Linked DNA regions of Homo sapiens. The protein of the gene in region 3 purifies or fractionates together with the protein of the main gene of each other region. This does not show direct contact. Each region holds a gene or a part of one and is shown on either strand. Other genes may lie near its edges.

Region 1 (7,923 bases), on a different chromosome or scaffold from region 3:
ATGAACGGGTGTGGTGGCTCATGCCTGTAATCCCAGAACTTCGGGAGGCCGAGGCGGGCAGGTCACTTGAGGTTAGGAGTTTGAGACCAGCCTGGCCAACATGGTGAAACCCCGTCTCTAGTGAAAATACAAAAGTTAGCGGGTATGATGGAGCATGCCTATAATCACAGCTACTCAGGAGGCTGAGGCAGGAGAATGCCTTAAACCCGGCAGGTGGAGTTGCAGTGAGCCGAGATGGCACCACTGCACTCCAGCCTGGGCAAAAAGAGTAAGACTCTATCTCCAAAAAAAAAAAAAAAAAAAAACAACTAATTGATGATGAGTGTCTGTCCACTATGGGGCTGCTGGTACTGGTGCCTTACTGAGGCAGCTTTGCAGAAGTGAGTCCTCACTGTCTCAGGAGCTGATGCTTACATCTGCATATTGTCAATCATTTTTGTCACCAAATATAGTTCCTTATATTTCTGTATACTTTTATGTACTTTTATTATTATCATGTTAATATTACTTGTGTACATTCCCAGCTCCATAGCTAGAGATGATTTTCTATTTATCGGTGTGATTATCAAGAACCCATTGGCATGGTGCTAGTATGCTGTTTGCTTACCTGACCTTAAGCTCTCTGTTTCGTCATCTCTACAATGGAGATCATAATAATAGTATCTTTTTAGAGGCCTGTTGTGAGGATTAAATGAGTTAAGATATGTAAATCGAGTATTATAATCGTTGGTATCATCATTATTATTGATACTTCTTATAGTAGCCCTATAAAGTTAGAATGGTGGTATCTCCACGTTACCTATGATGAAACTTGGACTCTGAAAGGTTAAGTGACTTGCTAGCTAAGTAAGGGGTAGAGCTGCGTTTCAAACCCAAATCTGTGTGGCTGCTGGGTCACACTCTTCTATACCACACTGCCTCCATGCCCTGGTCAAAGTGTTCTTCAAACACAATTTTACTAAAGGACAGAATGGAAATTTGATGTGTGGCAAAGTACATTTAAAGCTTGAATTCTGCATTGGTAATTGTCACACAGGGAAATGAACTGTGTGGAATAGCCAGTCACCTACATCGATGCCTTCCTGAGTCCTGAATGGTGTAAATTGACAATAGTTTTCGTTTTCCTACAGGTTCACTTCTTAAAAGAGGGATGTGGAGACGACAATGTATGTAACAGCAACCTTAAACTAGAATATAAATTTTGCACCCGAGAAGGAAATCAAGACAAATTTTCTTATTTACCAATGTAAGAATCGTTGTGTAGCACTAGCAAAAATGATTCTGGCTTCATGGTGGCTTTGTGTTAAGAAAGTTTACTGGAAACGTATTGAGGACTTTGCCTTTTTGTTCTTGTTTTCTTATTTTTAATAGTCAAAAAGGTGTACCAGAACTAGTTCTAAAAGATCAGAAGGATATTGCTTTAGAAATAACAGTGACAAACAGCCCTTCCAACCCAAGGAATCCCACAAAAGATGGCGATGACGCCCATGAGGCTAAACTGATTGCAACGTTTCCAGACACTTTAACCTATTCTGCATATAGAGAACTGAGGGCTTTCCCTGTAAGTATTGTTAGAGACCAGCTGAGAGGGGAAAAAAATCAACACTGTGTGGCAAATGAGTGGATTGTGACCTAGCGTGTGTTTCTTTTACAGGAGAAACAGTTGAGTTGTGTTGCCAACCAGAATGGCTCGCAAGCTGACTGTGAGCTCGGAAATCCTTTTAAAAGAAATTCAAATGTAGGTGATGCCTTCATATACTGTATTTTACTGTTTTAAATACCATTGCAGTGTCTGTATGCATGGCCTGTGTTAACAGCTATTTATGTTTTTTTAGGTCACTTTTTATTTGGTTTTAAGTACAACTGAAGTCACCTTTGACACCCCAGATCTGGATATTAATCTGAAGTTAGAAACGTAAGAGTTACATCAACCTCTCCATTCAGAATTATTTCATGAAAATATGGGCAGTCAATGAATTGGCCCTGATCTACCTCATAAAAGAAGTCTAATTGTAGTGAGAAAACTGACTGGTAAAATACAACCCTATTGTTTCCTTTTCATTTTCAGAACAAGCAATCAAGATAATTTGGCTCCAATTACAGCTAAAGCAAAAGTGGTTATTGAACTGCTTTTATCGGTCTCGGGGTAAGTGTTTGTGTTTAGCATAACAAATCAATGTTTGAAAGAACCATTTACAATCCTCATTAAAACTGGTGTTTTTTAATTTGACAGAGTTGCTAAACCTTCCCAGGTGTATTTTGGAGGTACAGTTGTTGGCGAGCAAGCTATGAAATCTGAAGATGAAGTGGGAAGTTTAATAGAGTATGAATTCAGGGTAAGTTGGAGCAGTTGGTCTTTTCATTATACCAAAAGCTGACATATACTAGGTATGGTCTTGAGTATGTCATTTTAATAAATCAGCAATATTAATAAGCATTGTAAGTAAATCATGAGTTAAAAATTAGTTTGCCAGCTTTTAAAGAACATACTGGCTTATAGTAAAAATTTTATCCTCCAGGATGGAGAACAATTGTCACTGTTCAGAATCCAGTTCAGTTTAGAATGCGTTATGATTTATTCCTTCCTCCTTTATAAGGTCATCTTTCTCACTGCTTGTGGTTGAAAGAATATTAATGTATGCCTACCTTTCACAAGCCCAGTTTTTGTGGTGAATGTAGATTTGGTATATGCCTGTAGGAAAGGCAGTGACTGGCTCTGAACCATTTCAAAGTAGGCAATCACAGTGACTCTCTGTCCTGTTGAATAAACATAAACATAGGGTACAGAGTCTGTTCGTAACTCACACATGGGTTTAGGTCTGTGTGGCTGAAATCACATTCCTGAAGGCATAGTGACCACTGTGGTGAAAGCCTCAAATGGCAAGCATGGGCCCACCTGACTCCGGCAGAATGAAGAGGCTGAATTCTCCTCTGTGTGTCTCTTAGCATTATAGACACAGCTGGGGCAGGTGGTGGTGGTGGTTATGATCTCTATGCAGGTGCAGCTGGAAAAGAAGTCTTTGGGTTCTGGAACAGTCTCGACACCAAGAGGGCTCTTACCTCCTGTGTTTGGCTTCTGCCGCAGGACGTCACTCTGTTCCCAGCTTGGACTCTCAGATTCATGGCTGTCCTAATAATGGTTTTGCAGAATCTCCTCTGGGACAGAGGCAGCTTCATTTTTGCAGTGGATGGGGTTTTCCAGAAGCAGGTTGTTGGTACACTGCCTTGGCCCAGGACTTGTCATTGGCCAAGCAGGGTGGTTACAGGGCAGTTCACAAATTCACACATGATTTTCCCTGGGCGTATGTTGAGAACATGGTATATCTACACTGCTGATTCTGTTGCATACAGCAGTTGTTCCTAGAACGAGTTAGCTATCAGTTGTCCTTTGACCTTTTTGTTTTTATTTACAAAAATCTTTAGGCACAAGTCTTTATTTTGAATGCCCTATCTATAGTCCATTTTTGGAGCCTGTGCTTTTATTATAGGATTACGTTAGATATTTTAGCTTCTTTCTCTTGGTAAAAGGAGCTGCTACTTAAATTTACATTGAGAAGATTAGACTGAGATAATATGTATTATTTTCTAACAGGTAATAAACTTAGGTAAACCTCTTACAAACCTCGGCACAGCAACCTTGAACATTCAGTGGCCAAAAGAAATTAGCAATGGGAAATGGTTGCTTTATTTGGTGAAAGTAGAATCCAAAGGATTGGAAAAGGTAACTTGTGAGCCACAAAAGGAGATAAACTCCCTGAACCTAACGGTATGTCGGTAGATTTATCTAATGTCTCCATAAATGCAAATTAGAGAAACTAACTTGTTAGGGGAAAATCATTACTGTTCTTAGGAAAGTGGCATATTCTGGCAGGTTGACTTTCTCTTTGGTTGTCACAATTTCTCTTTTCTAGTTGGGTAACTGAGGGAGGCTGAGGCATTTTTGCTGGTTAATGACCATTATAGTACATAAGGCAGAGTCATTCAGTGCTTGCTGAGGCAAATGGTATTTTCTGATGTTTCATCATGACCCAGTATGTTACATAATAAGGAGAACTGGGGGATGCTCCTGGGGTAATAGTAGCTGCTGTTATCCAGGGGCCAGCCAGTGTTCACTCCAAGTAGAACCAAACTCATTGGAAAAGATAATGGCATCTCAGCAAGTAACCTTGAAAGCTTTTTATGCTTATTTTTAAAATAGTAATTATTTATTGTGTACTCATTGTGTCTCAGGAACTATGCTAAGCATTTTGTTTTCATTTTCTCATTTCATTCTCTGGATGGTCCTATGAGGGCGTTTCATTATCCTCACCATTTCACAGATGAGGACATTAAGATTCAGAGAGCAAGTAACTCTCTCAGTCACTCAGGCGTTAAGAGACAGATTCCACATACAAGCCCTGCTCTGCCTGATGTCAAAGCCTGTACTGTTAACCCCTCTCTCTATACTGCTCCATGCTTAGATAACTGGCCTATCATTTGTGTTCCAGTTTGATGAAGGTTTGCATGTTTATTTCTTTTATTTTAAATTCTAAGGTGACTGGGTATGATCAGTGATCAGAGTTGGTGGCTTATAGCATGATCTTCTACTCATCAATGTTAAAAATCAAGATAATCGGTTATTACTAATCTTTGCTATAAGGAAAATGCAATTTTAAAAGTTCTTGTATGGCTTAGTTTTCATTGCTCTGCTCTGAATGAGCTATATAATGGGTCTTTTTGCTTCTTTCTCTGTTCTTCAGTGTCACTTATTCCTTCAAGATGTGCTGACTACCATGTTTTAGGAACAGAGCTGGAGGCTAGGGATACAGGAATAAGATTTGATCTCTGATCTCAGTATGCCCACAGTTTGGTGGGGATACAGAGGAACAAAGAAAGCATATTTCTCTTTCTCTGAGTTTTAAGGTCAGAGTGGGAATGAATTACTTAGTCCTATGAGTAAATCAATAAACTTGAATTTAGAGTGATAATACTTGCTGGTTTTACACTTACTTCTGTGCCTTTGGCAGGAGAGAGGCAAATATTGTTGATTATGTGAATCTGGCACTGTTTGGGAGGATATGCTCAAGAGGCTTGTATGGTAATGACAAAGAATTACATAAATTGGAACTATTTTGGATATAATTTTTTTCAGGAGTCTCACAACTCAAGAAAGAAACGGGAAATTACTGAAAAACAGATAGATGATAACAGAAAATTTTCTTTATTTGCTGAAAGAAAATACCAGACTCTTGTAAGTATTTTTCAAGAGCTGTGAATATTTGAGAGGATGAGGGGAAGGATTTCTTCAGAACAATGTCTTTTGATGACCATTCTTCTTTTTCTCTCTAGAACTGTAGCGTGAACGTGAACTGTGTGAACATCAGATGCCCGCTGCGGGGGCTGGACAGCAAGGCGTCTCTTATTTTGCGCTCGAGGTTATGGAACAGCACATTTCTAGAGGTATGACCTTGGCTTGAGGCTGTCCCATGGAAGTAATTTGCCTTTGCCTAGGACACTTTTCACTTCCCTAATGCATTCACTGTCTCCAAACAGGAATATTCCAAACTGAACTACTTGGACATTCTCATGCGAGCCTTCATTGATGTGACTGCTGCTGCCGAAAATATCAGGCTGCCAAATGCAGGCACTCAGGTGAGAGGTTCCCCAGCTTCATTCAGGTTCAGAACATGTCTCTTTTCCCTGTACCCCACACTCATGTCCTGAAGTCATGTGCTTTGGTGCTCATTTCCCTCATAGCCCCATTACGGAGAAAACTGTCTTAAGGTACTGGCACTGCAAGCTGTATTTTAATAGAATCATTGAAAAAAAGAAGTAAATCTAGGGTCATCCAGTTCAGCAGTGCCCATGGTAGGTTTGAGAACTACTGGCTCAATTCAGAGAATGGGTGCACCTCACAGCCCTCTAGAAACCTGTGTCTTCTACCATCTCTAATGCTGCAGCCATTGGTGTAATGCCCCAGTGATGGCCCATCCCTTGGCCAGCTGTAATTATTAAAAAAGATCTCTTCATAGCTGACTCCTGAACTGAACCTTGTAAGTCCCTGGTTATGCCCCTCAAACAAGTCTAAAATAAGTTCTCTCTCTTGGCCATGTAGCAGCCTCTCAAATAATTGAAGGAAATGGTCATGCCTCCTTGGATGTTTCTTATTCTTCTCAGAGCTTATGCACCCAGCTCTTGAGTTATGCGTCACATTGGGCACAGCTGAACTGGCTCCTGGCCTCTCCCTTCCTGGGCAATTTGATTCCCACGTGGACAGAGCAGCTGAGGTGGGGTCTGCTTGGTCCCACTTACCCTGGGGCCTTTACCTCTCAGCATCTCGGCACCACACTTCTGTCAGACCTGCCTAAAATTTGCTTTTTCAAACCATTGCTGAGCAGCATGTTTGAATTTCTAGCAGCTGCTATTTTTGTGTTAGTGTTCTACTGAAACTTCCAGGTGTTTTCATCAGAATTTGTTGTCAAGCTGTGTTTCCAGTATCCTGTCCTTGAGCTATTTGTAAAAATCTAAATGTATGCCTTTAAGTGTATCCTTACATTTTATGTGATTTGCTTTGGGTCCATTGTTTCAGTTTGCAAAGTAATTCTGAATCTTGCTTCATCATTTGCTTTCTCAACTTTCTATCCCTGAAAGTTTTAAAAACTGAGAAGCATGTTCTCTATGTCTTCATCCAGGTAATGACAAATATGTTGAATAGGACTAGGTGTAGAACCTTGTAGTGAACCAATAGTGAGGGGTTCCCTGTGGGAGTCTAGAACCCACAGGGACTTGTATAAAGATCTCGAGGCAGAATGACTGCATGTCATGGTGGGAATAATGAATGGGAATGTTTTGCAAAAGAGACTGGAGAAAGAAATACTGTGAATTACTGTTCTTAAGTTAATCTGCCAGTCTACTTATGGAAATGTTCTGGCTTCAGTCATTTAGCTAGCTGAAAATTCAGGGAGCCTCCCTAATCATTCTGTTTTCTGAAATATAGCAGTCCTTACGATTTATTATCCAAGCAAGAATACATTTTTGTTTTTATTTAGTTTTTTGAGATGGAGTCTTGCTCTGTTACCCAGGCTGGAGTGCAGTGGCGCAAACACAGCTCACTGCAGCCTTGAATGCCTGGGCTCAAGCAATCCTCCTGTCTCACCTCCTGAGTAGCTGGGACCACAGGCATGCCACCACGCCCAGCTAATTTTTCAGTTTTTTTTGTATAGCCAGAGTCTCACCATGTTGCCCAGGCTGGTCTTTAACTCCTGGACTCAAGCAATCCGCCTGCCTCAGCCTCCCAAAATGCTGGGATTATAGGTGTGAGCCACTGCACCCAGCCCCAGGATACATTTGCCTGAGACAAATGCTGTACTGGGCAAGCTGCTGCGATAAGTGGTATCAACCAGCACTGTCCCGGTCTCTCCAGGACATATCAACAGGCATCATAAGGGACTTTCAAATAAACCACACCTTCCCTAAGGATCCTTTCTCTGCATCTATAAAGGCAGCAGGTATAGCTTTCTATAACTGTAAATCAGCAACTCTGAAAATCACTGAGATTTCAGAGCTAGACAGAGAACACTTTAGAGGGAAGGGACTAACATTAATGAAGCCTTAATAAAATGTCTGCAGCTTACTAGATACTTTATACTCTATCATTCAAACTTCAGAAGAATGCCAAGGGTAAACATTGTACTCATTTTACAAACAAGGAAGCAGACTCAGAGAGGGGATATAATTTGAGACCCTCAATTGAAACCTGTAATTGTCTGACTTCAGGGCTTCTGTTCTTTGACTCTGTGGCACTTGGTCCCCTTAAAGTCCCCAAATCTCAAATTGAGATAAGAAAACTGAATCCAAGGAAAGGTATCTCCCCGTCAGGGTCACCCGACCAGCAAGTAGAGCTGAGACCAGACCTTGGGTCTGATGTCTCCTCTTCAAGTGCTG
Region 2 (7,923 bases), on a different chromosome or scaffold from region 3:
CCCAGATTCTCCGGGGCATGAGGGGTATTTCAAATTCTGGCTGCCAGGTTATTTTTGGATCTACTGTCTGCAAATGAAACTACAAGAAACAAAGACAGAGCAAGGGAAGGACAGGAGGCAGGTTCTTCTTTCACTCAATCAGATTTTTTAACAGACAAAGAGACAAGTCCCTGCGATGCAGTCCTCCCACCCGGTGACCACTGGGGGCCGGCTGGAAACAGCATCCCACAGCCCAGCACGGCCGAACCCCGTGCTGCTGGCCAGAGCTTGCAGGTCCCCAGAGGGTTCAGTGCCGGTCCCAGGTACCCGAGCGCCACAGCCTGCACCAGAGGGACTCTGACGGAGGGCTTTCATTTTCACCCTTTGGTTGGGATTTATAGAAACAAATGGAGACTCCTTTCGAGCATGGTGCTTCAGGAAGGGAGGGGACGAGAGCCCTGGGCTTGTGGTGTCCACGTGGACAGCTAATGAGGAGCCTTGCCGATGAGGAGCATGCGTTCCCGACGGGGCGGCCGAATGCGGAAGGAGCCGCCATTCTCTCCGCCCTGACCGCGGGATTCTCTGCAGCAGATGAGAAACGGCGCTGACTCAGCAGGGTCCCTCCCAGGCCCCGAGCGGTCATCTGGTGACCCCCGCGCTTCCCCCACGGCCCAGCCGGAGAAGGGCAAAGGGAAGTCCCGGCTCCAAGGCGCACCCAGAGATGCGGTGCATGTGGCAGGATGGCCCAGCCCCGTCGGCAGCCCCAGCTTCCTGCCCCTGGTTTCCTTCCTCCCACGGGCTACAGGCCTCTGATGAGCTTTGGAAAGCAGGAAACACACAGGCTAGTAACTATGAATGGGTCCAAAAAACACTCCTTATTACTTTAAACTACTTAGGAAGAAGCACAGCGTTGCCAAACGCCAGAGCCCGGGAGCAGCAAAGACCCCACCTCCAGGGCTCACCCTGGCCTTTCCTGGACCTGCCTATGGGCTCGCTGAAGAAGCCTGGCACCCCTTGAGTTCATCCCACAACACGGAAACCCGAGCCAGGCCCCAGAAGCTGACCTGAGGCTGTGGAGAGTTTCAAACACTAAGAACTCCAGGAGCCCCCTCAGCAGCCCACAGCCCAGGGCCCTGCTGTCACCAAGGAACGCCCTCCACACCCCTCAGTGACGGCACAGCCCGGAAGCAACAAAACACGGCGCTCCAAACATGAAGTTGCTCCTGGCCATAATGTGCCTTTTCATTCTCCAAAAGGAAGCTGAGTCTCTACAGCATATTCCAAACACGAGCGCACCTTGCCCAAGAAGGTTCCGGAATATGCCTGCCACTGGCAAGGGAAAATGGGAGGCTGTCTAGGAAATCAGGGCAGCACTCTCTTCTGGTTCCCAGGACAACGTCCTGAGAGCCCACCACGCTGAGACACGGCCCCACGCGCCTTCTTTTCCCCACCTGGGCCAAACCCTCACCCGCCATTCCCAGTGTCAATCCCTCGGCAACTTCTCCTCCCCAGGTTCAAACACCAGCCCCAGTTGGACTGACCCCACTCCTTCACATCCTGCGTGGACTGGCACAGAGAAAGGGAGGAAGAGGCTGAAGCGCCCAGCAAGGTCCCGGGGACCCAGCCCTCCCCCGAGTGTGGACTCCCAGTGCGGGCCCAGCCCCTGCCAGGCTGGAGGTATCTGTGAGCGGCGAGCTCTGAGGGCGCGGCCTCCATGCAGGGTGTACCCTACCCCAGGTGCAGTCAGATCTCCCCCAGAGCCAGCACAGGAGCCACAGAAGCCTGGACCACCCAACGAAAGGACGCGGGCAGCACTCCTGACACCGCTGCTCACAACCGAGAACTCAGAGGCCGCGTGGGGGCCAAACAGTCCCTGCTGCTGGGGGAGGCGGTTTCTAGCCCAGACCACGCATGCCAGGGTTCAGGCACAACTCTCAACAGGGCAGGGTCTGGGGCTCAGAACAGCTTCATGAGAAGCCGCGACAGCTGAAGGAGGCTGAATGACTGATGTATCTGTGTGTCTTCTGAAGAGGGGATTTAGAAAAGTCCATGTCCAAGCAAGACACGCAGGGCAAGGAAGCAGCAAGTGAGAAGGTGACGAAAACGACAAAAACCACCTGCAACCAGCAACAGCAAATAGGACAGGGAAATATACAAACACCAACAAAAAACGACACCTCTCCAGGCTGGCACATGGCACTGGAGGACAGCGGGGAGGGTAAAGCGATCAGCGGCCACCTCCCCAGGCTAACCAACCCGAGGAACCATTACACCGCAAACCTATGCCTGGGTGGGGGCAGATGCCATTCGGAGGAAACCACCCAGCCGTCCCAGGGAAAGTCAGTCTGTGTGCGAGGACGGGACCCAGCCCGGCGCCTCCTGAAGACTGCAGTGTGGAGCTGCTGTCCACTCTGCACAAGGGCCTCGCCTCAGCTCCAGGAGAGTCTCATCTTACCCTCCCCAGGGACGCCTCTCCCAGCGCGGGTCTCCCCACTTCTAAGACGAGCCAGGGCACACTGCAGCTGACGCGGAGCAGCTGGGCCCAGGGGCCTCTGTCCGGAGCTCACGCAGTGGAACCACCGTGTTTGGTGTCAAAGGCATAACCTGAGACACACTTGGTGTTTTGGAATCTTTTTTGTTTCTGGCAGGCAGAAGTGGACTGCGGTCACCCCATGCAGGTAAAGGTTGGAAGCTCAGGCAGGAGTTCCAGGCAGCACAGAAGAGCACCCACCCGGCAATTTTCTTCCAGTCCTTCACATGTAGCCAAACTGGTTTGACTTTTCAGGGACTTTGAATGAATAGACAGCTGGCTATCAGAAATGGGGGCCTCCCCAGCCCTGGGTCACCGGTCTTCTTCCAGGACACAGCCAAGGACTGGAGTTGGGGCCTCTGCTACAGAAACCCTATACAGAGACCTCAGTGAGGAGAAAAGGGTCGCCCTGCAGGCCACAGCTCTGCAGACCCAGGAAGGGGCCCGCCCAGGCACGGTGCCTCCTGGCATCCGGTAGGCATCTTTCAGCCCAAGTTGCATTAGGCCATCTCACTGTGGATCAAACTTAACAGTGAACTTCACTTCCTCAAATAACAACAAGAAAAGACTCTGACAGCACCATTCTCATCAGGAAGGGAGGAGAAGGAATACATCCCCTCCGGTTCTGAGGGCCGAAACGAACGCAGGACTCTCTGTGGCAACATGAAGGGGACTGGGAGGAAGTGGAGGCTGGGAGGCCAGGACCCACGTGTGGACCGTGCAGGTGTTTTTATTTTGTTTGGCCCCCTGGACCCCTAAACACCATTTCCTCTCCCGCCACCTCCTCACTCTGCCGCGGGAGCTGTGAGCCCGGGGGGCAGGATGGCCTTCTGCAGGGAGGACCTAACATCCCAGCCGCACACTGGCTGGAAGGTCCAGAGCCTTCATCACAAGGCCAGAGTTTTCACCAAAACCCACAGGGCCAACTCCTGAGAACACGGATGCTGGAATTTCAACACCCAGGCTGGATGCCCCCAGAATGGAACGTGGAGCCGAGAGGTGCCGAGCCTGTGGCGGGCAGGGAGACAGCGCGGGCCACACAGCCTGTGGGCAGACGGGAAGGTGAGGGATGGCGCCCTCGAAGACAAACAACGTAGAAAATATTCCACACTGAAATGAAGCAGAAAGCGCAGCCTTCTCTCCTGGCTGAAACAGCATTAAAGCAAGAAAGAACTAAGGGAAACAAAACTGCAACCAACAGCATCAGGGGAAGGACACAGCCACTGGGAGAGGAGCCACTGAACTCCAGCAACAGCCCAGGCCTGAGGAGCTTCCTCCATGGAATTCCGAGTTGGGGAGAACAGCAAGGCTCTCTGCAGGCAGCTCCGCAGGAAGGCATCTGGTGTCCAGGAGAGACACAGAGAGAGCAGGTCTGCACCAGCACGGTGAGGACGGCTGTCTTGGTCTGAGTTTAGAAGAGGAAGCTTGTGTGGACCTGCATGGGAGCGGGCAGGAGGGCATGGTGACAGGGAGACCTGGCGCCTCATACCCTTCTGTGTCACTCCAATTTTGAAGCATGTGATTATAACAGGTTTTTCTTTTTTTTTCCAGACAGAGTCTCACTCTGGCACCAAGGCTCGAGTGCAGTGGCGTGATCTCAGCTCACTGCAGCCTCCACCTATCGGGTTCAAGAGATTCTCTGGCCTCAGCCTCCTGAGTAGCTAGGATTACAGATGCCTGCCACCATGTCTGGCTAATTTTTTGTATTTCTGGTAGAGATGGGGTTTCACCATGTTGTCCAGGCTCGTCTCGAACTCCTGACCTCAAATAATCCGCCTGCCTCGGCCTGCCAAAGTGCTGGGATTACAGGCACGAGCCACCACGCCCGGCAGGTTTTTTTTTTAACTGCATTTTTTTTTAATTTGATTTTTAATTCTTTTGAGACAGGGTCTCGCTCTGTCACCCAGGCTGGAATACAATGGCGTGATCACAGCTCACTGCCACCTCAGACTCCTAGGCTCAGGTGATCCTCCCACCTCAGCCTCCCAAATAGTAGCTGGGACGACAGGCACGTGCAACCACACCCGGCTCATTTTTTTGCAGCATTACATTTTAAAATAAAAAAAACCCTGCTATCCAAGGAATTCTTGAAGAATCAAGTAGAGTAAATAAATAAATAAATAAATGGAATAAGGCCCCCGCCCCAGGTCCAGAGCCACCTTGTGGAGAGGGCGCCTCACCCAGGCCGGCGTAGGTCCTCCGCTTGCTCAGGCTGGCCGACTTCACCAAGAACATGCACGACTGGTGCGTCATCCATGAGCAGAAGACCAAGAGCAGCGCCCCCAGGACGATGCCGCACTGCAGGGTGGAGACAGGAACACATGTTCACAGCAGCAGGTGCTCCCCAGAGGCCCTCACCCCACACACGCGGCTCATGAGGACCCTCTTCACCCCCAGGCCCCGCTCCATCCCAGTCTCCTGCCGAACGCGACACTTCCTAGCACTGAAAGGGCCATTTCCTTGCTGTGGTGGCCGCGCGCCTTGTCCAGGGATGAAGCTGTATGCGCAGAGCACAGGGGTGCCATCTCCTTCCCAGTCCCCACCTCAAGTCTTCATGGACAGCGGGGTGCTGCCAACTAATACCCCCTTGTTCTCTGCACACACCCTACATGCACCATCTTTAGCCACTTAAGTCCACAGCTACAAGTAATGAACACATTCTGGAAGAGATTAAAAATGCCATTTTCCCCGTTCTCATAAGTTAAATAGACACTTACTGTGTGACCTGGGGATTAACTGCACCCCTAGGTATTCACTTACCAAGAGGAATGAAAACGTGTTCATGAAAAACCTGTATGCCAATGTTTACAGCAGGTTTATCCACAACCCAAAAATGGAAAAACAACCCAAATGTCCTTCAACAAGCGAATGGATACAAACTGTGGTCCATTCGAATAAGGGAATATTAGTCAGCAGGAAAAAGGGATGACTACTGACACCCACCATGACACGGATGGGACTCAAACGCACCATGCTGAGCAGAGGAAGCTGGACTCTGAATGCTACAAACAGTGTCATTCTGTTTACAGGAAACTCAGAAAAGGCAAACTTTTAGGCCAGGGAACAGCTCAGTGTTGCCAGGGGCTGGGGGTGTGGAGATTTGGCTGATGACAAAGGGGCACATGGGGACCCTCTGGGGGATGAAGCTGTGTGTTCTGTTTGACTGTGGTGGTTACACAGCAAGCCCATGACCTGCACCCTAAAAAGAGTCAATCAGCCGGGCACGGTGGCTCACACCTGTAATCCCAGCACTTTGGGAGGCCGAGGTGGGCAGATCACGAGGTCAGGAGATCGAGACCCTCCTGGCCAACATGGTGAAATCCCATCTCTACTAAAAATACAAAAATTAGCTGAGCATGGTGGTGTGTGCCTGTAATCCCAGCTACTTGGGAGGCTGAGGCAGGAGAATCACTTGAACCAGGGAGTCAGAGGTTGCAGTTGAGCCGAGATTGCGCCACTGCACTCCAGCCTGGCGACCGAGCAAGACTCCGCCTCGAGAAAATAAAAAGAGAGTGAATCTTCCTGCATGTCCACTACCTCCATCGAGGTGACACTTAAAACACAAGGACCGCCACACTAGTGCGAGACGTCAGTCACGTGAACCTAGCTGGACGGTGAGGGGGGCGGGGGCGCTGCACTTTCCAGTCTGTTGTTCTGTAGACTTAAAACTGCTCAAACACATAAGTCCGGCTGGGCACACTGGCTCACAACTGTCATCCCAGCACTTTGGGAGGCCGAGGCAGGTGGATCATTTGAGGTCAGGAGTTCGAGACCAGCCTGGCCAACATGGTGAGACCCCCACCTCTACTGAAAACACACACAAAAAATTAGCCAGGCTTGGTGGTGGGCGCCTGTAATCCCAGTTACTTAGGAGGCTGAGGCAGGAGACTTGCTTGAATCTGGGAGGTGGAGGTTGCAGTGAGCTGAGATTGAACCATTGCACCCCAGCCTGGGTGACAGAGTAAGACTCCATCTCAAAAAAAAAAAAAAAAAGTAAGTCTATTAATACCAAAAACTCATGAGATATCACCAAGCACTCATCAGAATGGCTCCAGCGGAAAAGACACGATACCCAATGCTACCGGGGATGCGGGCCGGCATGTGCACCACTGCACCCACATGGCAGCTCCAGAGCGGAGCACACGCACCCTGGGGCCCGGCCACTCCACACAGGCACGCACCCAGCAGAAACCACCCCCTGCCAACGCCTGTCCAACTCCTCAGGGCATCACAAGAGCTCCCAATAGGAGACACCGTAAATGCCTCACAGGGGTAAACTACACACAGACACGCATGGCGGTGCAGCGGACACCAGAACGCAAGCCAGACACTCGCACTAGACACCTGCACAGCAGGACCCACCCACCTCAGTTCAAACCAGGCAGCACCACCGTGGCACACTAGGGGTCAGCAGTGTGCCCCGGGTAGGCCGCCACGGCCACAGAGTACGCTCCTTAATTTGGGAGCTAGTCACACGGGTTTGCTCGTCATATGAAAATTCATCAACAGCACATCTAAAGAAGTGTGTACACATTTTTGTATGTCAAACTTCAATGTTTATTATATATATAATCTATATAGATCTATATCTATATCTATCTAGATATAGATATAGATATATATTTTTGTTTGTTTGAGACAGAGTCTCACTCTGTTGCCCAGGCTGGAGTGCAGTGGCGCGATCTTGGCTCACTGCAAGCTCCACTCCCGGGTTCAAGCGATTCTCTTGCCTCAGACTCCCTAGTAGCTGGGACTACAGGCGCCTGACATCGCGCACAGCTAATTTCTGTATTTTTAGTAGAGATGGGGTTTTATCATCTTGGCCAGGCTGGTCTTGAACTCCTGACCTCGTGATCCACCCTCCTCAGCCTCCAAAAGTGCTGGGATTACAGGCGTGAGCCAACACGCCCAGCTATGTATATATATAAATATATCAAAACTACTAAAACAAAAAAAAAAACACTAATCCAAAGTTTTTCAATGCCAAGGCTGCCAAACACTAAACACACACATCCCCAAATCGCCTGCTGGCGTCTCCCTGCGCCCCAGTCCAAGAAGGCTGCCGTGGAGGAGACGCTGCGGCCAGATCAGAGCAACTGGGCCTCCCTCTGGGCAGCCCTCAGGACTCAGAAGGACGTCTCTAGTCCTTCACTTCCTGACAGGTCTGTGCAGATGCCCGGCTAATCAGCACATGCTCTGGCAGGGGCCTAATGTCCACCACATGGCAGGTGGTCCAAGGCTCGAGATAGCTGGATCGTCTGGGCCCTAAGATGTACTTTCACAGGTGTCTAAACCAGAGCCCCTTCCACGGTGGCACTTCACCGACAGGCATCAAAGATGACAGCATTTGGGGCCAGGCACGGTGGCTCACGCCTGTAATCCTAGCACTTTGGGAGGCCGAGGTGGGTGGATCA
Region 3 (7,923 bases):
ATGTTTTATAAAATACTGACAGTATTATAAGATGACATTATTATAATACAACATAAGAATTTTGGCCTGTACCTCTCAGCAGTCCTCAATCACCTGCTGTACTTGACTCAATGATTATCAGAGTGGTTTGTTTTCCTTCTGTTGTGTTCCCAGTTCAGGCAGCTCAGCAATGGCCTGTGATTCCAGCAATTCAAATAGCTGGTAAGTAGTTTCTTGTTTGTTTTCTCAAATTTTCAGGGGCTTTTCTCTACAAGTGATTTCCAGTGCACGCCCCTCCACCCATTCTTTATTCCTTTACCTTCAGGAAAACCCTCAGCGCTGCATCTCTGGTCACCGGACCACCGTGGTACATTTACCTATGGCCACCAGGTGTCACCCTTCTCTTTACTACCATGGTTTGTGAATGGTTTTGCCAGAGGTGAATAAGAATTTAAAATGCAGGTCTTTGATTTTTCAAATGTAGTTGACCTTAAGAATTTATGAATAAAGCCAGAAAAATTAAGCTTAAAAAACACCGAAAGAAAATGAGGACTTAAAATTTCTATTAAAAAAATTAACAGGCCACAGTTGCTGATGTTTAGTAAATGTGTTAGTGAAATGTGTTACTGTGAAGACTGGGGTGTTTCTTGAAATCTCAGCCCAGGTGAAATAAAACCAATATAAAACAAATGCTTACCTAATAAATTAATTGTAACATATTCCTTATGAGGTAGAAGAGTAAGTGAAGCCTTATAGCAGTCTGCTTTCAGTATAGTAAGATATTAAGAGAGAAATAATTTGTCATATGCTTTCAGAATGGTTTGCTGGTAAAATAACCAATGTCTTACAACTTAGACGACAATGTCCCTAGAGTGAAGAAACACGATTAATTCGGCTACCACAGTTGAATGAAAATATTCCGTAAGACAAAATGTAAAGAAATTAGAAGCAAAATAAATGTCTCCAAAATGACAAAGCGATTAAGTATATACACAAGATGAACAAGAACTTCAATAAAATCATGCAGTATACAATACAATATACATTTATTAAAGTATATGCATTTTTAATGCAACAATAATACTAACAGGTAATAGACAAGTTGTTAATAGTTTTTCACTGGCTAATTAAATAACAGCTTTAATTGTATTCATTTTATAGCTTTTCTACAATGAGCGTAAATCACATTTACTTTTTTCTACATAACTTTTCTAACCACAAAAAAAGAAAATGGTTTAAAAGAAGAGATGAGATATCTTTGCTAAAATTTAATGCCTAAAGAAGAAACTTCTGAGCTGTATATGGTATCCTGAAGCACCTGCCCTTCAAGACAGAATGCTTGTACCACATTTATGCAGCCAAGTGCATGTAGTAACATAAAGTAAACACATGCCATCTGGATATATATATTAAGACTCTTTTGACGGCTGGGCAGGGTGGCTCACACCTGTAATCTCAGCACTTTGGGAGGCCGAGGCAGGCGGATCACGAGGTCAGGAGAGTTCGAGACCAGCCTGGCCAACATGGTGAAACCCTGTCTCTACTAAAAATACAAAAATTAGCCGGGCATGGTGGTGCACGCCTGTAATCCCAGCTACTTGGGAGGCTGAGACAGGAGAATCGCTTGAACCTGGGAGGCAGAGGTTACAGTGAGCCGAGATCATGCCATTGCACTCCAGCCTGGGCAATAGAGTCTCAAAAAAAAAAAAAAGACTCTTTTGAACATGGTGAACTGATTTCCCAGAATCTAGCAATTCCTGAATGTCCTGGTTAGATTTTTTTTTTAATGTGCACCGGAACCCCAGTGGCTCCATGGAAGGACCTGGGCATCCTCTAAGCCACTTGGTGGCTTCCATTATACCATCTCAAAATGAGAGAGCTTACTCCACTTCATTGAGGGAAATACCACCAGAGTTCTGACTCCAGAGGCACTGGCCTAGGGAGGACACCGTGTGTGAAGCCCAGCAGGGCCACTAGCTGTCCCCACCAATTACAGTCCTTGCGTAGGGTCCAAAGAAATGAATGCCAAAGAGAGCAACAGAGGAGCAAGGGAGTCACATTCCAGGACCTTCCTTCAGGGACTTTTAAAGGAAACATGACAGCTGAGGATCAGTTGGTTGTTTTCTGCTGTTCCCCTTCATGTGATTCAAGCTCACTCAGAAGAAACACAATGAGACAAGAGAAGAGCCATCTCCTTCCTTCTCTATTTATTCTAGGCATCTAAACTACTGAATGTAGTGGTGTCTGAGATGTATCAAACGGTCAGATTGACTGAGTTTGAAACCTGTTTCTATCACTGACAAACTATGAGATACTCTATACTTCACTTTCTTTTTTTTTTCATTTTTTTATTTTTATTTTTATTTTTTTGAGATGGAGTCTCACTCTGTCACCTAGGCTGGAGTGCAGTGGCGCAAACTCGGCTCACTGCAAGCTCTGCCTCCTGGGTTCATGCCATTCTCCTGCCTCAGCCTTCCGAGTAGCTGGGACTACAGGCGTCTGCCACCACGCCCAGCTAATTTTTTGTATTTTTATTAGAGATGGGGTTTCACCATGTTAGCCAGGATGGTCTCGATCTCCTGACCTCGTGATCCACCCGCTTTGGCCTCCCAAAGTGCTGGGATTACAGGCGTGAGCCACCGTGCCCGGCCTACTTCACTTTCTTCATTTAAAAAAGAAATGGGGATAATAGTACCTATCTCATAGAATTATTGTAAGAAGTGCATGCAGTAATGCATGTAAGTAGGTGCTCAGAAGAGTCGGACACGAAGTAAGTGCTTTTATCATCCTTATCATAATTTTCATTATCAGAACAAGGAGAGACCAGGTAGAAAATTATTGTGATTCTTCAGGTCTGGAATACTAGAGTAGCATCCCAAATGAAGGCACCATTAAACTTTGCAAATCTGTATGACACCTTCATGCCAATTAGAAAAAACACCTCTTCACAACCCCTTTCAAGATATTTGCCTCCTACCTGCTAAAAACACCCATCATACTACCCACAGATAGCCATGATGCTTTTTCTGGGACAGGTGCCTCTTCCATTCGTGCAGTGTACAGCCTTCATAGCTGTGCAACTCACATCACAATCAGATGGAAGAATCCCCAAGGCTTGGTGACAGATGAGTTACTGGGTAACACAGAGAGAGGATTCAAAGGAAAAGTTGAACGGGTCCAGAAAATGCATAGATACATGTGTAAAAATCTGGTAAGGTTATGACTAGCCACGTCCCAGGGTTCAAAGCTTTTCTCAGATGTTAAAATGAATCATGTAAGTCCCCCAAATTTAAGGAGTCCTCTTCCAAAAATAGGAAATGAAATGACATAGGTGTATGTCTCTGAGGTGACGGAGGAAATGAAGGAAGCCTCTAGATGCAGCTTGAGGTTCATGAGAGACAGTTCCAGGGGAGAGGTCACAGCTAGGGATCACCGGCATGCAGGAACTCAGAAACCTAAATGGGGAAATCTTTTTGAGGAAATGAACAGAGAAGGCTAAAATCAAGGAGTTCGTCAGGCAATTTCTATGTTTAGGTTCAACTCTCTCCTGAAACATGAAGAGCTCATAAATGCACTCCCTCTTTGAGTCTCTAGTTTTGTCTCCTTCCCACAGTGAGTCTGCAGGCTGCGTGTCACTCACGTTCAGCTAAGACGTAGTGCCCCATGGCTCCTCCTGTGGAGACAAGAGACCCAGGAAAGAGGCATCACAAACCTAGGCACCATCTTGCCTCTTCTCTCTTCCTTATTTTCCTCATTCACCCATCTCAATTTAGACCTGGGCACTATTGGATTTCAAGAACCATTATCTCTCATCTGGAAATGCTTATTGGCTTTCTAACTGGTCTCCTCACCTCTCATCTAACTTCTTAACAACACATTCACCATATAAGGGAGATCGTGGTCCTCCTTTCTTAGGATCCTTCAATGACACCCCAGTGATCATAACCCAATATCCCAAAAGACCCTTGGACTCTGTATGAGCTGGCTTCTTTCTGATTCTCTTTTCCCTACACCACAGATGTTCAGGGGGTAGAAATGCATAATTGGTGAGTGATAGCTACGCAAACTCAGGGTTAAGGTACAGTAATTATTTCTAATCTCCCAGTATGCCTTATACTCTCCTACTTGGCATGGTTGCTCCGTCTGTGTAGACCTCCCATCATCTTCAACCTCACCTAATGGAATCCAGCTTCTCCTTCAAGATCCAGAAGGCTATCTTGATCCCCAGCTGAATGTGATCATTCTTTCCTTTGACACCCTAAGCATTTGCTTCCTGCCTGCTTTAGGACCTCATGGGGTCTTCTTTAACTACATTTACTTGCTATCAATTTCATTCCCTACCAGATTTGGGTTCTGAGAATAGCCACAGTGACTTCTCAACCTCAAAGCCCCTGTACTACCTTAAACAGCTCTTGCAAAATAGTAGGTGCTCTGAAGATGTTTGTTGAATTAGAGACTTTCATTCTGGGGAGAACCATTATTTTCTGTCTCCCAGGGAGCTGCTGGTGTCCCCAAAGAATATAAATGAGAAAAATGCTTCCCATGGATGCCAGATCCCCTCTGCCCCTCTTCCCACTGTGCCCTGGGGCAGAGGTACTAAGAGACTTCCCCCTTGTTCCTACTCACTTGAACCCTGCCTCTTCCTTAATATTATGAACAAAATTCCAATGAACAAGATGACGACAAAAACAGCAATTCCACTGATGACTCCAATGACTAGGGTGCCAGACGGTGAGGGCTCTAAAACAGAAAAAGCAAGTTAAAGCCTTTGATTGCCACCCTCAGCCCACCCCCTAACAAAGAGCAGATCCTCATCTCACTGCCATAATTACCTCCTCAGGCACTCCTCTCAACCCCCAATAGATTTTCTCAGCTCCTGGCTCTCATCAGTCACATACCCCAGATCACAATGAGGGGCTGATCCAGGCCTGGGTGCTCCACCTGGCACGTATATCTCTGCTCTTCCCCAGGGGGTACAGCCAAGGTTATCCAGCCCTGGTAGGTCCCATCCCCATTGGGCAATACGTCTTTAGGTTCGAACTCCTTGGCATCCATTGGCTGCTTATCCTTCAGCCACTTCATGGTGATGTTCTGGGGGTAGTAGTTCAAGGCCCGACACCGTAGAGTGGTCACTGAAGAGGTCACATGATGTGTCACCTTCACCAAAGGAGGCACTTGACAGGAAAGAGGAAGGATGAGGAGAGGGGATCTGTTTACCCTTGCCAGGAAGACTGGAACTTTCACTTCCTTCTATAGGTTGGAGGAAGGAAATACCCTTTTCAGAAAAAAACAAGCTACAGGAGAGACACCATTTTGTGTCCTAAGATTGGACTCTAACACAGTGTCACTTGGAGAGCAGTCAGATCAGCTTGTTCTCCTCACATGTAAATATACATATCTGTTACCCATGTTCTTTGTTCTGATAGATAAAATTGCCCTTTATGTGCATTGAAAATGATTGAATACAGATGGTCAGTTTCACCTGGGTCAACCTAGGAGGCATTGTTATAAGAAGCGGACTTGTAAGATAGGTAGCTTCAGTGATTATTGCTATGTTCTATGAAAGAAACTTTTAACCTAAAGGATTCTTCTACTCTGATAAGTGGCCTCACTTGATATTTTGTCCTGGTATTCATATGATAGCTGAGATCTCTGAATTCTCTTTTTTTTTTTTTTTTTTTTTTTAAGATGGAGTCTCACTCTGCTGCCTAGGCTGGAGTGCAGTGGCGCGATCTTGGCTCAGTGCAACTTCCGCTTCCCAGGTTCAAGCGATGCTCCTGCCTCAGCCTTCCAATTAGCTGGGACTACAGGTGCGCATGACTGTGACCAGCTAATTTTTGTATTTTTTTAGAGACGGGTTTCACCATGTTGGTCAGGCTGGTCTCAAACTCCTGACCTTGTGACCACCCGCCTCGGCCTCCCAAAGTGCTGGGATTACAGGGGTGAGCCACCGTGCCCGGCCTTGACATTTCTGAATTTTTAACAGGTATAAATATACAAAAGATTATTGGTTAAATAAAAAGCAAGGGCCATAGACACTTCCCTTTGAGCCATATGCATGGAGAAAAGAAATTAAACCCATGACTTGTGGCTGTCTCATACATCTCAATTATAAGGTAGAGACTCTAGGATTGAGAAAGTCCCTTCCCAGAATTTGGAGAGGCACACAGCCTCAGCCACCTCTGAAACTCCAACCAGGGATTCCGTGCCCTGCAACCTCCTCCACTCTGCCACTAGAGTATAGGGGCAGAAGTGTGTTTCCACCATACCTTGTTGGTCCAAAACACCTCTCCCCAGCTCCAGCAACTGCTGCAGCTGTGCAGGGCAGTCCCTCTCCAGGTAGGCCCTGTTCTGCCTGGCCCGAATCTTGTGCCTTTCCCACTCCAGCTTGGTGGGCCAGGCCCTGGGTTCTGCTGCTCTCCAATCCAGTGTGTCAGGGCAGAATTCAAGGTGGTCCTGCCCATCATACCCGTACTTCCAGTAGCCCTCGGTACTGTTGTCTTCTTGCATTTCACAGCCCAGGATGACCTGCAGGGTGTGGGACTCTGGAAAAATCCCCAGCCTTGTTAACTGCAACCAAAGGAATAGGTCCCTATTTCCACCATCCCCAAGGACCAAATGATCTCAGGAAGCAAATTCCTTCCCTCTTCCCTGCTCCCACAAGACCTCAGACTTCCAGCTGTTTCCTTCAAGATGCATGAAAAGATGAAAAGCTCTGACAACCTCAGGAAGGTGAGGCCCCCTCTCCACATACCCTTGCTGTGGTTGTGATTTTCCATAATAGTCCAGAAGTCAACAGTGAACATGTGATCCCACCCTTTCAGACTCTGACTCAGCTGCAGCCACATCTGGCTTGAAATTCTACTGGAAACCCATGGAGTTCGGGGCTCCACACGGCGACTCTCATGATCATAGAACACGAACAGCTGGTCATCCACGTAGCCCAAAGCTTCAAACAAGGAAAGACCAAGGTCCTGCTCTGAGGCACCCATGAAGAGGTAGTGCAGAGAGTGTGAACCTGGAGACAGAGCAACAGGCCTTAACCATGTGTAGTAGGAGGGGAGCAGGATGTTGAGGCTCCACACACCTGCATCAACTCATACCATCAGCTGTGTCTGGTCCTCATTTTGTGAAGGGTGAGTTGCAGTCCTGTCTTTCTTCCATATGACAGTCCTGGGTGCTCTTTCCTTGTGTGCTTTTCTCTGCCACACGTGGCTGCCACCCCCTCACTGCCCCCAGATCCTATTCCAATACTCATGATTAGACAGACTCCACTAAAGCTGGTGGATTCTAGAAAATGTTAAGGTGTGTCTAGCCATGGTAGTTGAACTCAGGAGTTGGTGCTCAGGGCAAATTAGACCCAAATCCTGAGGAATAATTCCTTCAGTTTTTTTTTTTTTTTTTTTTTTTTTTTTTGAGACAGAGTCTCACTCTATCACCCAGGCTGGAGTGCAGTGGCACAATCTCAGCTCACTGCAACCTGCACCTCCTGGGTTCAAGGGATTCTCCTACCTAAGCCTCCTGAAAACCTGGGACTATAGGCGTGCGCCACCACACCAGGCTAATTTTTGTATTTTTAGTAGACATGGGGTTTCACCATGTTGGCCAAGCTTGTCTCAAACTCCTGACCTCAAATGATCTACCTGCCTCAGCCACCAAAGTGCTGGGATTACAGAAGTGAGCCACCGTGCCCAGCCTTGGTCCTGAATTCTTACACTGAACTGCCTATGTGGCCTCACCACTTGGAAGCCTGACTGGAATCTCAAACTTAACATGTCCAAATGCAGATCCTTGATTTACCCCAAACTGCTCTTTCCTCTGCCTTCACCATCTCAGAAATGGCATTGCCAATTACCCCACTGCTCAGGCCAATAAAATTAAAATAAAGAACAAAGTCAACTTTAACTCTTCTCTTTTTCAGGGGGTCAGGGGAGACAGGGTCTT
Region 4 (7,923 bases), 7.2 Mb from region 3:
CTGTAATCCCAACGCTTTGGGAGGCCAAGGCAGCGGGCGGATCACCTGAGGTCGGGAGTTCGAGACCAGCCTGACCAACATGGTGAAACCCCGTCTCTACTAAAAATACAAAAATTAGCCAGGCGTGGTGGTGGGTGCCTGTAATCCCAACTACTCGGGAGGCTAAGGCAGGAGAATCGCTTGAACCTGGGAGGTGGAGGTTGCAGTGAGCCGAGATCGCACCATTGCACCCCAGCCTGGGCGACAGAGACTCTGTCTCAAAAAAAAAGAGAAGGAAAAAAATCTTCAGGCCATGTGTATAAGGTGTATAGGAAACATAAATGATTTCTGTGTTTAGATTTGGGTCTGATCCCAAAGATATTAAATATATGCAAATATTCCAAAGTCTGAAAAAATCCAACATCCAAAAACACTTCTGACCCAAGCATTTCAGATAAGGGACCAGAATTATTAGATTAAATAAGGTATATTATTAAGTTAATTTTACCTGTTTCTGCTTATTTTTTTAATGTGAGTACTAGAGTATTTAAATTTACATATGTGGCTTGCATTATCTTTCTATTGGACAGCACTGCCTAAGTAACTTTTTAAAATCCCTACACCCAAGGAAACATATAGATTAAGTAGCATGCTCAAAGAGTCCTACAGTTAGGATATAGTGCCAGGTTTTAACCCAGATCAGTGTGAATTCCAAGCCTAGGTTCTGCCTACCACACCAGCAGCCTCCCTCCATGGGTTTTGAGATAGGATGAGGAGATAAAGTGACAAGGGAAAGATACAGAGAGGTGGAGCACTGTACCTTCTTTGAATCCTTGCAGGTGGACAGGTAGACAGCTGTGGGGAAAGATTGAGAAGGGATGGGATGCTGGAGTGGTAGAGGTGGAGGGCAGAGGGATGGGTGTCAGGCTCTTGGGAGTAGGTGGGGAAAGTCCACCAACCTCAGGTCATGGTCAGGGTAGGGCTGACACTTACCAGCCCAGCCCAGTGCCTTGAAGAGCCCAAGCAGAAGAAAGGCAGACAGGAAAAGGCCTACGCTGTCCTCAAGGGAGGGCCCTGAAAGACCTGGCAGGCAGAAGGGGTGAGAGTGAGCTCCTGTCTTCCTGGGTGCTGGCTCAGATTCCGCAGAGCTCCCAGCTCTTACCTGCTACCTCCAGGGTGACCTCAGCGCTGCGCCCCGAGGCAGGCAGGCTGGGATGGTGAATTCGACAGGCATAGCGTGCCCCATGCTGCTCAGTGGTGACTGGGGGCGGCTGCAAGTGCCCAGAGAGGCTGACAGAGCCATCGGAATGGTGGCGCAGGGCCGAGAGCCACCTCTGCCCCTCGGCCTTCTGAGAGCGGCCCCCTGGGCCACCCCGGAGTTCCCACTCCACCTCCAGGCCCCCAGAAGGGTAGAAGTGGGACACAAGGCAGAGCAATTCCGGGGGTGCCTCCCCTGGGGCGGCCCGTGCAAGGGTTGCTGGCATCAGGGACACTTTGGGGGGTTCTGGGGAAAGAGGACGAAATGAGCATAGGGAAATCAGTCCATACTGTCCTCCCTAAGAGACCCTCAGTTTGCCTGCTGGCTTCCTCAGAACTAAAGAAGGTTAGGTTTCTTCTCCTGAAATAGGGAACCCACTGTCTCTCCATTGGTGCGTCACAGAAATACCCATGTCAAAGCCCCTCAAATTTCCAGGAAACTTCTAGCCTCCCATTACCCCTCTAACTCCCAGGAACCTCTTTCTATCTCTACTTACTTGCCCAGGCACCCTCTTATCCATCATCCCTCCCCCTATTACGGTCCCCACAATCCAGTGCCCACCCTCTACCCCTGGAGACCTCTGTCCCCCAACTCACTGTACACAGCAAGCTCCAGGGTGACCTGTCCTTGCAGGTATGGCAGGTGTATGGTGGCCAGATAGGTGCCCTCCTGAAAGGGTTGAACTGTAGGCAGCCAGAAGGTCCCATTTCCGGTCCATGGGCCCCATGGCTCATCATCATCCCAAGCAGCAAATGCCACGGCCCCTTCTTGGGCTGCTGGCATCTGGCCATTCAGCCCAGGAGTTGCAGCCAGGAGCAGATGTCCCTTACCCAGGTGCTGGCGTCGCCACTCTAGCCCAAAGGGAGGGGGACCCGGAGCCAGAGATGAGGCGGCCTCGGAGGTGGGGGGCATGTAGGCAAAGCTCAAGTCCAGCAGAGCATCTTGTCCCAGTCTCACTCGAGGGGCAGGGGTGTGGGTGAGGACAGTCAGTACCACTGAGGAAGACAGGGAGATGAGGGGTTGGGAGGGGCATGAGGGAGAGAAAGAAGGAGAAAAAAATAGAGAAATGCAGTTATTGGGGAGGGCTAAACTGCAGTTTACCCACCCCTCAGAGGACACCTTTTCTGATACTCACCATTTCCTAGCCCTCCCTGCAAACTCCTTTTGCTCTGCGACTGGGTGGCACCTAGTGTGGCTGAGGGTGAGCAGAGAGGTCTAGGGGTGGTGAGTAGGGGCAATGAGGGGGTATGGCCTTTGAAGCCTACTCTGAACACATAGCACACTCTAGCTCGGGGGACTGCAGAATCCGAGGCCACTTCTGACACAACCTGAACCACTCTATCTCCAAGCACCACCCTTGAGGAACCAGGCCTTTCTTGATTACAGGCGAAGACAATGATTGAGCCATGACTGTCAGTCTTGTGGTGCTGTACAGAATATTTACTGACTCTAGAAGGTTCCAGCTCTAGCCTAGACCTGAGCACAGACCTCTATGCTCTACTGAAGCAGTACAGTGCAGTGGCTAAGTGCCTGGAGCCTGGCTGACCGGGTTCAAATCCCCTCTGCAGCTTATTTATATGGCCTTGGGCCACTTCCTTTTTCCATGGCTCAGCTTCCTAATCTCTAAAATTAAAAGTTGATGATAATAATAGTACCTACTTCATGAGGTTGTTGTGATGGTTAAATCATTAATACCTCTTGCTACTCAAGTCTATTCAGTTCCCAATTTTAGATAACAGAGACACCTACCCATGAAGGGTGCTTACAACACTGTCTGGAACACAGTAAGTCTACACGTGTTTGCTATAGTTACACCTAACTTAGCATACCCCAAGTCAACAGCATCTCTGCAACATTCCCCACCCTGCTCCAATGCCCATCTTCCCTGTCTTTGATGAATGATCACCAAGCCCGCCAGACACTAAAAGCAAACCCTTGGAGTTACTCAGACTCATTTATTCATTCAGCAACTATTGAGCACTGAAGATGTTCAAGGTATCCTGGTAGAAGACAGAATGGTGAACAAGACAAGCAGTCCCTGCTCTCAAATTGCCTATAGTCCAATGACAGACAAGCAAATTGTCAAAAATAATGTGCTATGTGCTATCCCCACCAGGACCTAACAGATCTCACATCTGTTTCCAATTTAGGTTCTCATCAATGTACGTTTAGACAATTACAACAGCCCTCCTGTCTGGTCTCCCTATTCTCAGTCTCTCCTTCAACTCCTTCTTCACACTGTAGCCAAACAAAGTGACTACAAGTCTGATCCCATCACCTACCTGTTTAAAAATCCCAAATATGGGCCAGACGCAGTGGTTCATGCCTATAATCCCAGCACTTTGGGAGGACGAGGCGGGTGGATCACCTGAGTTCGGGAGTTTGAAACCAGCCTGACCAACATGGTGAAACCCCGTCTCTACTAAAAATACAAAATTAGCCTGGTGTGGTGGCACATGCCTGTAATCCCAGCTACTCGGGAGACCGAGGCAGTAGAATTGCTTGAACCCGGGAAGCAGAGGTTGCGGTGAGCCGAGATTGTGCCATTGCACTCCAGCCTGGGCAATAAGAGGGAAACCCCGTTTCAAAAAAAAAAAAAAAAATCCCAAATACGGCCAGGCGTGGTGGCTCACACCTGTAATCCCAACACTTTGGTAGCCTGAGGCGGGTGGATTACCTGAGGTCAGGAGTTCAAGACCAGCCTGGCCAACATGGCAAAACCCTGTCTCTACTAAAAATACAAAAATTAGCCAGGTGTGGGGGCAGGCACCTGTAGTCCTAGCTACTTGGGAGGCTGAGGCAGAAGAATCACTTGAACCTGGGAGGTAGAGGTTGCCGTAAGCTGAAATCATGCCACTACACTCCAGCCTGGGCAACAGAGTGAGACTCCGTCTCAAAACTAAATAAATAAATAAAATAAAAATCCCAAATACCTAGGAAGTCAGCTGATAAAGGCATAGGCTGAAGCTATATGGCCTGGGTTCAATTTCTAGCCCTGCTTCTTTTTTTTTTTTTTTTTTTTTTTTTTGAGATAGAGTTTTGCTCGTCACCTAGGCTAGAGTATAGTGGTGTGATCTTGGCTCACTGCAACCTCTGCCTCCCAGGTTCAAGTGAGTCTCCTGCCTCAGCCTCCTGAGTAGCTGGGATTACAGGCGTCCACAACCGTGCCCAGCTAATTTTTGTATTTTTGGTAGAGATGGGGTTTCACCATGTTGCCCAGGCTGGTCTTGAACTCCCGACCTCAGGTGATCCACCTGCTTTGGTCTCCCAAAGTGCTGGGATTACAGGCATGAGCCACCACGCCTGGCCTCTAGCTCTGCTTCTTACACACTGTGTGTCCTTGGGCAAATTATTTAACTGGTTTGTGTCCTATATTTATCCATATGCAATACAGGGATAATATTAAAACCTACAACCTATGGTTGTTGAGAGGAATAAGTGAGATTATGCATATAAAGTGCTTAGAACAGGGCCTGGCATATAGAAAATACTTGATAAATGTTAGCTGTTACTATTTTCATTACCTTCATCACTATCATGGACTTGCTGGTTAACTTGGAAAAATCATTTAACCTGTATTTTCCTCACTAGTCCAAAGATCTGACCTTTGCCTATCTTTTAAAAGAATCAAGTAAAATAACAGGCTTTTTCCGGGCATGGTGGCTAACACATGTAATCCCAGCACTTTGGGAGGCTGAGGCGAGTGGATTACCTGAGGTCAGGAGTTCGAGAGCAGCCTGGCCAACATGGTGAAACCCCATCTCTACTAAAAATACAAAAAAAAAAAAAAAAAAAATTAGCGGGGCGTGGTTGTGGGTGCCTGTGATCCCATCAACTTGGGAGGCTGAGGCAGGAGAATTGCTTGAACCCAGGAGGCAGAGGTTGCAGTGAGCCAAGATCACCCCATTGCACTCCAGCATGGGTGACAAGAGTGAAACTCCGTCTCAAAAAATAAATATGTACATAATAAAAACAGGCTTTTTAGAATAACACGCCCTCCAAAAGAACTTCTGATGGTTCGCTCTCACCTACAGAACAAAGCCCAGCTTTCAAGGTATTTGAACATTCAGCCCCTAACCCACCCTTCCAGGCTTCTCCTGCACCCTACAAACCAGCCACATAGAACCCCTTTCTTGTGCCTAGTAGAAGTGGTCATCATTGGTCATCTCTTTGCTTTGGTCATGAGGTCCCTTCAGTTTACATTGTCTTTCCCATTTTCTCCCAAACATCTATCAAGCTTGTCCAACCTCCAGCCCAGGGACCACATGCAGCCAAGGACGGCTTGGAATACAGCCCGACACAAATTCATAAACTTTCTTAAAACATTATGAGATTTTTTCACATTTTTTTTTTTTAGCTTATCAGCCATCGTTAGTGTTCGTATATTTTATGCATGGCCCAAGACAATTCTTCTCCCAGTGTGGCTCAGGGAAGCCAAAAGATTGGAGACCCCTGATCTAAATACTCCATGTACATGAAGGTCACTTTCACTGCTGTTTCTTCCCAGAAATGTCTAGGTCCTTCAGGTAGAAGTAATCTTTTTCTTCTTGTAATTATTTTTATGTTCTTTTTAATCCTAGCTTCTGAGGCCTATAAGGTTAAACTGTTCTCATCTTCATGGAATTGTTCAGTAGAGTAAAAACAGTATGCAATTTCACTTAGTTTGTCAAAATCCAGAAACATACTTTTGAATTGTTAAAAAAAAAAAAAAAGATCCACAGGCTGGGCACAGTGGCTCACGCCTGTAATCCCAGCACTTTGGGAGGCCGAGGCCGGTGGATCACCTGAGGTTGGGAGTTTGAGACCAGACTGGAGAAACCCCGTCTCTACTAAAAATACAGAATTATCCGGGCATGGTGGCACACGCCTGTAATCACAGCTGCTTGGGAAGCTGAGGCAGGAGAATCACTTGAACCTGGGAGGCGGAGGTTGTGGTGAGCCGAGATCATGCCATTGCCCTCCAGACTGGGCAACAAGAGCAAAACTTGATCTCAAAAAAAAAAATCCATAGAATTAATAAACAAAACCTGGCTGGGCAGGGTGGCTCAGACTTGTAATCCCAGTACCTTGGGAGGCTGAGGTGGGAGGATCACTTGAACCCAGCAGTTTGAGACCAGCCTGGGCAACATAGCAAGACCCCATCTCTATTTAAAAGAAAAAATTTAAAAAAATAATAAACAAGACCTAAAGGTTTTACAGTTTAACTCTTTTTTTTTTTTTTTTTTTTTTGGAGACAGGGTCTCACTCTGTCACCCATCAAAGGTGCAATCCTCCCAACACAGCCTCCCGAGTAGCTGGGACCATAGGTACATGCCACGACACCCAACCTTTTTTTTTTTTTTTTTTTTTTTGAGACAGTTTCACGCTTGTTGCCCAGGCTGGAGTGCAGTGGCATGATCTTGGCTCACTGCAACCTCCGCCTCCCAGGTTCAAGCAATTCTCTTGCCTCAGCCTTCCGAGTAGCTGGGATTACAGGCATGCACCACCATGCCTGGCTAATTTTGTATTTTTAGTACAGACGGGGTTTCTCCATGTTGGTCAGGCTGGTCTTGAACTTTCGACCTCAGGTGATCTGCCCACCTCGGCCTCCCAAAGTGCTGGGATTACAGGCATGAGCCACTGCGCCCAGCATTTTTTTAATTTTTAGTAGAGACAAGGTCTGGTTATGTTGCCCAGGCTGGTCTTGAACTCCTGAGTGCAAATGATCCTCCCACCTAGACCTCCCAAAGTGCTGGAAGTACAGGCGTGAGTCACCTCACCTGACTCCATAATATTTTAAAAGAATGGTGAGAATTAAACACTATACACACAAAGTATATTAAGAAAGTATAGGCCTGGCGTGGTGGCTCACGCCTGTAATCCCAGCAATTTGGGAGGCTGAGGTGGGTGGATCACCTGAGGTCAGGAGTTCAAGACCAGCCTGGCTAACATGACCAAACCCTGTCTCCACTAAAAATACAAAAATTAGCTGGGCCTGGTGGTGGGCGCCTGTAGTCTCAGCTACTTGGGAGGCTGAGACAGGAGAATTACTTGAACTCAGGAGGCAGAAGTTGAAATGAGCAGAGATCACACCATTGCACTCCAGCCTGGGCAACAGGGTGAGACTCTGTCTCAAAAAAAAAAAAAAAAAAAAAAAAGTATATTTGGGGCCAGGCAGCTCACACGTGTAATCCCAGCAGTTTCGGAGGCCAAGGTGGGCAGATCAATTGAGCCCAGGAGTCCAAGACCAGCCTGGGCAACCTGACAAAAACCCATCTCCACAAAAAAAATACAAAAATTAGCTGGGCATGGTGGCACATGCCTGTGGTCTCAGCTACTCAGGAGACTGAGGCACGAGGATCACTTGAGCCACGGAGGTGGAGGTTGCAGTGAGCTGAGATCATGCCACTGCTCTCCAGCCTGCACTGCACTCCAGCCTGGGCGACAGAGGGAGACCCTGTCTCAAATAAATAAATAAATAAGCATATTTGTCAATAAACATTTAAAAATATTTGATAAGACAAGTATAAATGTATATTAGCAAAATCATGAATGATCTTGGACCCTGGAGAGATTTCATTTCTAATTTTACATCAGTACAACAGCTTTCATTTTCTTAAATCCCTGATCAAGCAGAAATGCTTGAAAAGAAAGAGCACAGCAGGCCGGGCGTGGTGGCTCATGCCTGTAATCCCAGCACTTTGGAA

The links.
Region 1: the proteins of HFE (region 3) and ITGA6 purify together in Homo sapiens (co-immunoprecipitation; 2 studies listed by BioGRID and IntAct, with this or other methods). This does not show direct contact.
Region 2: the proteins of HFE (region 3) and SLC38A10 purify together in Homo sapiens (co-immunoprecipitation; 2 studies listed by BioGRID and IntAct, with this or other methods). This does not show direct contact.
Region 4: the proteins of HFE (region 3) and TAPBP purify together in Homo sapiens (co-immunoprecipitation; 2 studies listed by BioGRID and IntAct, with this or other methods). This does not show direct contact.

Annotation. Positions count from the first base shown.
Region 1 is NC_000002.12:172,485,893-172,493,815, forward strand, and holds part of ITGA6 (integrin alpha-6 isoform b preproprotein), read left to right. Parts: intron 1-1,130; coding exon 1,131-1,246; intron 1,247-1,371; coding exon 1,372-1,561; intron 1,562-1,654; coding exon 1,655-1,738; intron 1,739-1,835; coding exon 1,836-1,915; intron 1,916-2,068; coding exon 2,069-2,146; intron 2,147-2,233; coding exon 2,234-2,336; intron 2,337-2,646; exon of another isoform or gene 2,647-2,757; intron 2,758-3,592; coding exon 3,593-3,766; intron 3,767-5,131; coding exon 5,132-5,230; exon of another isoform or gene 5,231-5,328; coding exon 5,329-5,439; exon of another isoform or gene 5,440-5,532; coding exon 5,533-5,631; exon of another isoform or gene 5,632-7,923. UniProt on the Homo sapiens protein: Integrin alpha-6/beta-1 (ITGA6:ITGB1) is a receptor for laminin on platelets. Integrin alpha-6/beta-1 (ITGA6:ITGB1) is present in oocytes and is involved in sperm-egg fusion.
Region 2 is NC_000017.11:81,285,002-81,292,924, forward strand, and holds part of SLC38A10 (solute carrier family 38 member 10), read right to left. Parts: intron 4,808-7,923; coding exon 4,690-4,807; coding exon of another isoform or gene 4,669-4,689; intron 2,349-4,668; exon of another isoform or gene 2,344-2,348; intron 1-2,343. UniProt on the Homo sapiens protein: Facilitates bidirectional transport of amino acids. May act as a glutamate sensor that regulates glutamate-glutamine cycle and mTOR signaling in the brain. The transport mechanism remains to be elucidated.
Region 3 is NC_000006.12:26,089,915-26,097,837, reverse strand, and holds part of HFE (hereditary hemochromatosis protein isoform 1 precursor), read right to left. Parts: intron 7,116-7,923; exon of another isoform or gene 6,998-7,115; coding exon 6,734-6,997; intron 6,525-6,733; coding exon 6,249-6,524; intron 5,230-6,248; coding exon of another isoform or gene 5,197-5,229; intron 5,154-5,196; coding exon 4,878-5,153; exon of another isoform or gene 4,812-4,877; intron 4,720-4,811; coding exon 4,606-4,719; intron 3,653-4,605; coding exon 3,612-3,652; 3' UTR 3,435-3,611; coding exon of another isoform or gene 3,427-3,434; 3' UTR 1-3,426. UniProt on the Homo sapiens protein: Binds to transferrin receptor (TFR) and reduces its affinity for iron-loaded transferrin.
Region 4 is NC_000006.12:33,303,156-33,311,078, forward strand, and holds part of TAPBP (tapasin isoform 1 precursor), read right to left. Parts: intron 2,233-7,923; coding exon 1,834-2,232; intron 1,484-1,833; coding exon 1,142-1,483; intron 1,063-1,141; coding exon 973-1,062; intron 835-972; coding exon 800-834; coding exon of another isoform or gene 620-799; exon of another isoform or gene 451-619; intron 1-450. UniProt on the Homo sapiens protein: Involved in the association of MHC class I with transporter associated with antigen processing (TAP) and in the assembly of MHC class I with peptide (peptide loading).